Homo sapiens: one gene and its partner. The protein of the gene in region 1 purifies or fractionates together with the protein of each later gene. This does not show direct contact. Each region holds a gene or a part of one and is shown on either strand. Other genes may lie near its edges.

Evidence for each region. The genes of interacting proteins can lie anywhere in the genome.
Region 2: the proteins of ROBO4 (region 1) and SLIT2 purify together in Homo sapiens (affinity purification with western blotting, with the first as the bait; one study listed by BioGRID). This does not show direct contact.

What each region holds. Positions count from the first base shown.
Region 1 is NC_000011.10:124,886,282-124,891,365, reverse strand, and holds part of ROBO4 (roundabout homolog 4 isoform 1 precursor), read left to right. Parts: coding exon 1-67; intron 68-3,525; coding exon 3,526-3,633; intron 3,634-3,866; coding exon 3,867-4,008; intron 4,009-4,152; coding exon 4,153-4,389; intron 4,390-4,543; coding exon 4,544-4,902; intron 4,903-5,084.
Region 2 is NC_000004.12:20,615,405-20,619,696, reverse strand, and holds part of SLIT2 (slit homolog 2 protein isoform 1 precursor), read right to left. Parts: intron 2,788-4,292; coding exon 2,499-2,787; intron 2,259-2,498; coding exon 2,047-2,258; intron 930-2,046; coding exon 688-929; 3' UTR 1-687. UniProt on the Homo sapiens protein: Thought to act as molecular guidance cue in cellular migration, and function appears to be mediated by interaction with roundabout homolog receptors.

The DNA of each region.
Region 1 (5,084 bases):
AGGGGACTCTCTTCTCCCCGCTTGTCTCTGGCCCCTGCAGAGGCTTGGAAGGCCAAAAAGAAGCAGGGTAAGGAGGGGGAGAATAGACATAGACTGAGCTGGTGGTAGGCGGGCCCAGGAATGGGAATGTGATGGGAACAAGGCCTCAAAGCCTGGAGGGGCGTGCAACCTCCACACCCTCCTTCCATTCTCCTCTCCAGGTGGACACAAGACCTCTTTCTCCTACCACCAGAGCACTCAGCTAGGGGTGCAATAGCCTCAGCTTTTTGCACTGTGCTCTTGTTTCAGTTTGGCTACACCAGCAGTGAGCCCTAATTCTGCACTCAATTCAACTCAGCAAACGTTTAATAAGCACCACTGCATGCCAAACATGGGGAACACAAGAGACGTCAGACACAGCCCCTGACTTCTAAGGGCTCAGGGCCTGTCTAACGAAAGTGTTGACTAGCAAACAAGTAATGCTAGAGCCTGGGGGAATGTGACCAGTGCTGGCACAAAGCCTCAGGCTCCCACGAGCTCATCTCCTGGTGTACTATGTACAGGTGTGCTTGGGCACCGACTCCCAACTCACTTCTCAGAGAGGAATGGGTATTTCCTTTCTGGACAGGTTTATCTCCTGACTCCCAGCTGCATTCTTAGACTTTTCAGAGAAAAATAATTATAGCCTCCATTTTTTATCAATTGCTATATACTAGGTGCTTTACTTATGTTTGTTATTTCATTTAATCCTCACAATAGATTGGCTAGCTACTATTTCTCTAATTTTACAGACAGGAAGAGGGTCAGAATGATTGAGTTACTGGTTCAAAATTCTGCAAGTAATTAGCTGCAGGACTCAAATCTGAAGGCAGGATAGTCTGCCTCTGAAGTGATTCTGAGTCTCTCTGGAGCTCCCTCAGGAAATCCTATTCTCTCTTTGAGTATTTTTTCCTATTTCTGGCCTGCAGAACATTGGCCTGCAATCTACCTGCTGTCTTCTTGAGTCTTCTGTACTAATTAGTAAGACCTAACAAATGTTCTACAGCCAAGTCTTTTTTTTAAGTGGATTTAATCCAACTTTTAATAAGACAAAGATGGATTAAGATAATTAACAGCTTGTTCAATATCCAGAATTTTATGACTGTAAATATCAGCGAAGCTGGCATTCTTACCAGCTTTGCCTCAGAGCTATTGCATTATAAATCCTTGGTGGTAACGAAACACCAGCTAAAAAAAAGGTGGAATAGTCTCATTTAAAAAACAGCCTTCCCAGGGAGAACTACACCAACTTTAATGGAATGGATAGCCCCTCTTAGAACAGTAATGCTACTGGAAAGAGGTGAGTGGTTTTCTACAGCCAGTTCTTAAGAAGGGTTCCAATTCTGAGATGAGGCTTCCTAGCCTGTGGTTTAGGTCCTTACTTCACTCCCTGTTTCTCCTCGCTCCAGCCCCATCTCACCACTGCCCCCAGGATAGGTCAACTGCAGCGACTCCTTGGCTGGTAGACACTAGATATTCTACCTCTACCTCCCAGGACCTCAGCAGCAACAAGATCATGCTATGGTCTTCTCCAGACCCATGGAGTTGATTCTACTGCTGTTTCTTCCTCTTCTAAAACTGGCAGGCTCTCCCAGTACCACCCACTCCCCTTGACCTGCTTGTTCCTTTTTCTTATTATTTGGCCTTAGTTGGGGTTTCTTCTCCAGTGCTGATATCCTCACAATTACAGTCTCCTGTCTCTCATCCATCATAGCAGGTTCTTAGTTCTGCTCAGTTTGCCAGATATATGCACTGAATATCCTCATTCATTCATTATTTTATTCAAACAAATATTTATTGCAATTTGACCAATGAGTTTCAACCTTTCACCTTGATAACATTTTTCTTGTCCAGTTTATTCAATTAGAATTGAAACTAAAGTCCAAGTAACTCCAAGCAACATAGGAGGAGGGCTTTTGTTACCAGAGTCCCTTAGAGGAAGTGAAACAGGCTAGGATAAAAGTGGCCTTTTCCAGGCCTGGCTGTTTTCTTTCCCTTTCCACTCAAACCAGCCAACCAACTTGTGCTCATATTTCTGAGCTTAGTCAAGAAGCCAGGCACCAGACAAGACATAGCTGATGATAGCAGAGTTGGTGCACCAACCCTGAAGTTGGCTCCCCAGATTACCTGGGTCATATGAAAGCTATAGAAAATCAATAAAAACCAAACAGCCAAAGTACCAAAGGAAACTTTGACGGAGGGAGTCTAGTCATTGATGAGTTTTCATCCTAAAGGATCAGAAGGTCTGGCCACTAGTACATAAATGGGGTCTTGGTCAATGCCAAAGCCTGGCTCACTTCCCTTCTCTGAAGCTGCCCGTAGTGGCCCCCAGATCTCTGATATGTGACTGACTAGATAGCTCTACCCTGAAGGTCCTGCCTGGTCCCTGGTCCACCAAGAGGGGAAACTCTTTCCTAGCTGGGCTTCTGGTCATGGGACACTAATCTAAAGGCTGTTTCTTTTCTCCTTTGTCTGATGTTCTTCAGGTTCCTGCTCCTGGAAAAATCTCTCTCCTGTATTACCCTATTCCTCTCTGGCTTAAACTTAGATCCCTTTTGCATTCTGGTCTGACCAAGAAGCATGCTCACAGGTCATTGCACATAGTTAGGGCTGTCTCTTTAGTTTCCAGCTTCTCTGTTGTGAAAGTTCACTCAGAGCCCTGTCTCTCCACTGCCCATGTGGGCCAGATGACAGCTTCCATCTTCTAGGTGACTCTTCTCACTGTGTGTTTATATCCACATTTCTGATATCACCCATGCATTCACTCTTTCATTCAACAAAAAGTATGGGCAGGGCATTGCGTCCCTGGGATAGACCAATACCTTTTCCCACTCTGAAGTTCCTCTTCCTATTAGCTGACTGTCTCCTGTCACAGCCAACATTGTGTGTCGATCCCTGTTTTTGTCCTACCCACTCAGCTCAACCTGACAGTCTACCCCATCTTTCAAGTGAGAGACAGTCGAGTTTCCCAGAGCAGGGCTATCCAGAGCCATGTGAGATATTTGCAATGTGAGAAATGGAAATTAATAGATTCTGTCCAAGAAAAGAAGGAGTATTTTTCTTACTGAGCCAAAATTCATGAGAGTAGCAATGTGAGGGTATAGAGATCAGGAAGATTGGAATGAATACAGTCAAGGAAAAGAAAGTTGTTTTTTAAAGCATCTATCAAGGCCAAGAACTTGTGCAATCTGTTTTTACTTAATTGTCAAGACCATCATTCGAAGTGGTTGTTTACACATGAAACTGAGACTCAGAAAGGTACATGGACTGCCCTGAAGTCACACAGCTGAGCTGGGCAGGTCTTTTGACCCCAAGCCTAGTGCTCCTTCTACCCTATCACAGCTGCTGGATGAAGATGGGGGTGTGGAGGGGATTCAGGGGGTTCCCCCTCTTTTCTCTGGGTTCAGGGTCGTGCAGGCTGAATTGAATAAGGCTGAAGATAGAGCCAGCAGCTGGGGTCTGAAAAGTCCATCCTGGGCCCCACAACCACCAACCCTTTCTTTGCAGAGCTGCAGCATGCCAACAGTTCCCCACTGCTCCGGGGCAGCCACTCCTTGGAGCTCCGGGCCTGTGAGTTAGGAAATAGAGGTTCCAAGAACCTTTCCCAAAGCCCAGGTGAGAGGGGGTCCCTGAAAGGGAAGTGAAGGGGTGAGATAGGGTGTAGGGATGCAGGGGCTTACCAGCCCAGGGCCCTCCCACGGGCTCATCCTCCTTTCCCTGAGGAGGCTGATGAGGGTTGGATGGAGTAGTGGACAGGTAGCTAAGGGGGCTGGTGGGCAGGCCGGCAGGCTGAGCTCCAGAGCAGATGGGGATGCCACTGTTCTCACACCCAGGCTTCTCTTCCCCAGGAGCTGTGCCCCAAGCTCTGGTTGCCTGGCGGGCCCTGGGACCGAAACTCCTCAGCTCCTCAAATGAGCTGGTTACTCGTCATCTCCCTCCAGCACCCCTCTTTCCTCATGAAACTCCCCCAACTCAGAGTCAACAGACCCAGTAAGAGGGCATGGGGTCGGGAAGCAGGGCTGGGAGAGTGGGGGTGTGGGGAGTGTGTGCCGGGATTGGACAGGCTGGGGAAGGGGGGAAAGGACTTGAAGAGCTGTAGTAACTACGGTGCCATCACTCTCTCCCGCAAATCAGGCCTCCGGTGGCACCACAGGCTCCCTCCTCCATCCTGCTGCCAGCAGCCCCCATCCCCATCCTTAGCCCCTGCAGTCCCCCTAGCCCCCAGGCCTCTTCCCTCTCTGGCCCCAGCCCAGCTTCCAGTCGCCTGTCCAGCTCCTCACTGTCATCCCTGGGGGAGGATCAAGACAGCGTGCTGACCCCTGAGGAGGTAGCCCTGTGCTTGGAACTCAGTGAGGGTGAGGAGACTCCCAGGTGAGTAGCTTGAGAGATAACCAAAGAACTACAGAAAAGCTGTGGGGGCAAGCGCCTCTCCACCCATTCCGCCCTCCCTCAACTGGGGCTTTTCTGTTACTACAACCCTCATTCCACCCAAACCATTGCTGTCTCCCCTTTTGCCTCTCCCTAGGAACAGCGTCTCTCCCATGCCAAGGGCTCCTTCACCCCCCACCACCTATGGGTACATCAGCGTCCCAACAGCCTCAGAGTTCACGGACATGGGCAGGACTGGAGGAGGGGTGGGGCCCAAGGGGGGAGTCTTGCTGTGCCCACCTCGGCCCTGCCTCACCCCCACCCCCAGCGAGGGCTCCTTAGCCAATGGTTGGGGCTCAGCCTCTGAGGACAATGCCGCCAGCGCCAGAGCCAGCCTTGTCAGCTCCTCCGATGGCTCCTTCCTCGCTGATGCTCACTTTGCCCGGGCCCTGGCAGTGGCTGTGGATAGCTTTGGTTTCGGTCTAGAGCCCAGGGAGGCAGACTGCGTCTTCATAGGTATGTGAGGTCTCCCCATCTTACTCCTCACTCATGCCCCTTGCCTTTCTAACAACTGTTATCATGTCATCATTGTTAAAACAACTAGTTTTATTGAATGATTATTGTATCTCAGGCACTATGATAAGTGCTTTGCATACATTTAATATTGAAAGTCTATGTGGAATATTCTTTATCTCTCT
Region 2 (4,292 bases), on another chromosome or scaffold:
AATAATCTATTGGTTCTTTATCATCTCCTTTATCATTTATATTACAAAAAAATTAATACTGGAAAATGGTAAAGACTTTTGTGTGCTGCTTCTGCTGACATGCTGACATTTAAAAGGAAGATAAAATTTATTTTAGCACTTTCATTTCCTCTCGTAAATGGAACCCAGATCCTCAGGACACTTTATATTTTGCATGAAATATTTCTCATCCATTTGTTCTATCTGTGAATTCTGGAGTTCCATTCTCTTGCCTTGCATCCTCATTCACACGCATGTGCTTGGTATGTCCTAGTGAACTTGGTTGATGTGAAGGAGGGTACACAGGTTTTATGCTCTGGGCAATTTCACAGCAGTGCACAGTAGCTCCTCTGTCCCTCGTGCATGTGCTTCTGCTTGTCTTCAGCATGTTACAAAGATGGACCCGAGTTGCAATGGTTCCCATCGCTGTTCTAATGTCTCCAGGTATATCTTTCTTCATACTTCTCCAGCATAGGGGAAGCTTTAGTTCAAGCATTTCTTTTTTTTTTTTTCCAAATGCAGAAAAAAAGTCTTTATTCTCATAATAAAAATAAGTCTGTTCTGTATTTTACAATATATTTCAAATATTTCCACTATGAAGCATTCATTAGTCCCACACGGTCAAGAAGTATACAACCTTTTCCAAAGACAGAGCTGCCGGGAGTGTGTTTAGGACACACACCTCGTACAGCCGCACTTCACCACTTTCTCAACCTCGTCCACAAAGGAGGAGCCGTCAGTGCATTCGAAAGAGTATTTCCGCCGCTTGCTCCTCAGCGGTCCACAGCACTGCCCTCCTGCACACCCACCTCTGCACTCTAATCGGGACACCTTCTTGGTTGTTTGGCAAGCAGCATAGCCCTGCTGCTTTTGGTAATAATCTCTTATCCTTTCCCCTCGACAAGAGATTTCTAGAAAAGAACAAAAAGCACAAGCATTTTAAGAACAGTCACTGTAAGTCATGCAGAGTGACTGTGAATCCACAACTTAATTCAGAAGCCTTTGCTTCCCCTTTGTAACTTGCTTTACATATTATTAGCTGGTGGCACGGCCTCCTATTCTTTGAAAAATACTTCTTTTTAGTCTCTATTTTCAGCAAAGTGAATGCTATTATGTAGAGTATAAATACAATGCTATTGCAGTGACAAGAAAATTGGATTCCTAAATATTTTCTTTCATTGCAAAAAAGGAAAAAAAGTACACATCTTCTGTTTTTACACTACTAACAGCTGGTTTTGTTTACCACAGGGAGCAGTTTCAGAGAGTATGCCATTTTATTTATTAGACCTGGAGTTTAATATTATCCAATCTGTTACTTAATACAAGTAACATTCCATTAACTTCATAAATTACCCCAGTATGAAGTATGTAGTTCAAAAAAGAGACATCTGCTAAAAGCTTCCATGGGCACGTTCCTCTTGTCTCGTCCCTTGGACACACAAAACAAAATCCGTGCCAGCTGGAGGCCAGGCGAGCTCTGATCACGCAGACAAAGGAGAAGGAGGAAGGTGAACTAAGAAGTCAGCCTGTTTCCGTTCCTCTCACCCACATGATTTGCTGTGATAAATCAGTCGATTCTAAGGCCAAAGGTCATTTTGTACTAAAACTAGAGCAGAATTAAGAGGACCATCTTCTCTGTGCCAGAAGATGAATTAATAATATATACGGATGAGAACAGCCGGTAAAGGTAAGACAGGAGTAAAGTAAATGTGCTTCTCCATCAGGTAAAAAGGAGCATTTCTTTTACAACAAATCAACTTGTGAGAAGCATCTGAAGGCTGTATACAATCTTGCGGTGGAGGTTTAAGGTCATTTCACAGCTGGTGCCTTCAAAATACTTGAAAATAAATCAATAGCAGCAACTGCAAGTAGTGAGAAGACCTAGTATTCTCTCCTGTCACTCCCCTCTCTCTGTCTCTGTTGCTCCTGTTTTTTTTTTTTTTTTCACTTTTTCTCCCTCTCTTTTCAAAGACATGGGACCCCTCTTGCTTTGCCAAGAGAATGAGGTGCCCAGTGGGGCTGGCTTACCTCGATCACAGCTGTCCCCCGTGTATCCACTGCTGCATTCACAGTAGGGCTGCCCCAGACCTGAAAGCCTGCACTTCCCATGCTTGCACTTGATCGCCTGGCATGGGTTAAACAGATCCTCCTCTTCATCACAGAGGACACCTCCATGGCCCTCCAAGCACTTACAGCTGTAGGAGAACGCATTGATGGGCAAGCAGGTGCCATGTACGCATCTACAGGGAGGAGGAACACAGGAGTGGGAATGCATTCAGAAGAGGAGGTAAGAATGAACGGAGGTGATATAAGAATGGAGGATGATTGAGAAAATATGAGGGACAGAGTGCTAATGCCTAACGAACCTCCCCTCCCCTCCCCTCCCTTCCCGTCCCCTCCCCTTCTTCTTTCCTTCCTTCCTTTGGTTTGGCTTTGAGGCTTTCAGGTGTGTGCTCAACTCCCAAGCAGCAGGAACTTACTTATTTCCAAGGCAAGGGTCATTGGTCCGTTGGTCACAGAGGGGCCCCATCCATCCTTCCTGGCACTCGCAGGTGAAGCCTGCCTGGCTGCTGGGCTGGCATGTGCCATGGGCACACACCTTCTTGTGGCATGGCTCACAGCCAGGCAAAATGCCTGTTTGCATCGGCACCTTCTGGAAGTCCTGCAGCTCACTGTTGATGTAAAGGTTCCGGATGCAGCCGTGGAAGCTGGTTCCGTTCTGCCCAGGGGCCTGGCGCAGAGATGCCACGTTACTCTTCCCTGGCATGCCTGGGGAGGAACACCAGGTCAGAGGTCAGGCTCTCTGGGGATTTCTGAGCCATTTGCTACTCAGAAATACTGATGCTTGGGACCTCACTGCCAACCTATTATGGCAGGATATTTGGGCAGGGTGGTAGGGAAGTGAAGTGGAGAAGAGATGTAGAGATGTGTGTTTTTGTTTTGTTCTGTATTGGAAGATGCTCCAGGAAATTCTAATCCACAACTAGAATAAAATACCTAGTTGATTGGTGGTTAATCTTTAAAATTTGCTTCAAAGAAAACTTTACATGTACACAAATATATAAAACCTAGAGGCAGAGCTACTGTCCTTAAAGGCAAGACTGGGGGAAGGGAATGTTCCCTCTCTGTTTGTCCTCCACCCTCCACCTCCAGGCACACACTCCTGGAAGTCTGGAGCTCCATAAAGCTCAGTTTATGGTGCTCTAATTCTACCCCTTATCTTAAAGACAAGGGGCTAGGGCTCAGAAAGCCCTGGTGACATGCTCAAGGTGACCCAGTGAGTTCAGGTTAGAGTTAGGCTGATGAGAAGAACTCCTCTATCTCTGGAGTCAGGGTTAGGTCCACCAGGTTTCAGGGGCTGACAGCTGGGGTTCACAGTGACCATTCACCCCAGCCCTCCCACATTCGAAGTTAGCAACTAATTCAGCTCACTCCTGGCAACGTCCCTAAGCTTGGTCAATGATGTCAATGCCTAAAAACTCACTCCTGATTCTTTTCAGGACAGCACCTCATTCACATCATTTTTTCTTTCTTGCTAATTAAGAGTGAAGACTTCATAGTCCAAGAAATCAGAAATAAAAATGAAATCCCTTCAAAAACAGAGTATTTGCAATCTTTGTATATATACATTCCACTAGTGACAGTTATCTGGTAACACTCATTTTGGCAAAACGGAAGAATCTTTCCATGGCCTAAGCCAGACCCTTAGTCCGTGGAAGGCATCCTGCAGAAGGCACCCATCCAGGGAAGGGGGGAGGGTGCTGGAAGCTTTCAGAGTGCTGGCTATACCACCACATCCCCACAACCCCGTAATTATGCTTTAGCTGTGCCTAAACTCTGGACTACTGGCTGGAAGTTCTAGGCTGAGGAAGACCCAGTTTCTCACTCTTCAGGGGGTCTGTTGGTTCTAAAGACCAAGAACTGTAGCACACTCTGGGTCTGAACTTATGCCACCTTCTCCTTTCCCATTCATAGGAAATGACTCATCCATTGGCATTCAAAGCAGGCATCAGTCAGACAGCTAGGTGTACGAAACCACTAGGTTATACGGTAAGGATTTCTGGTTCTGCGTGCACTTGGAGCAGTTATTTCTTCTCTCTGGGGCTTAGTATTGTCATCTATACACCATGAGCATATGGACCAGAGAAGTTGTCCTAAGTTTGTCATACATAAGAACCAACAGCAGTGCATGCTCAAAGGCAGCTTTACAGGCTCCTCTCTCCCCTCCTTCTGAGGTTCTGATCCTGTAGGAACAGGAGAGGTGCAGAAATCTA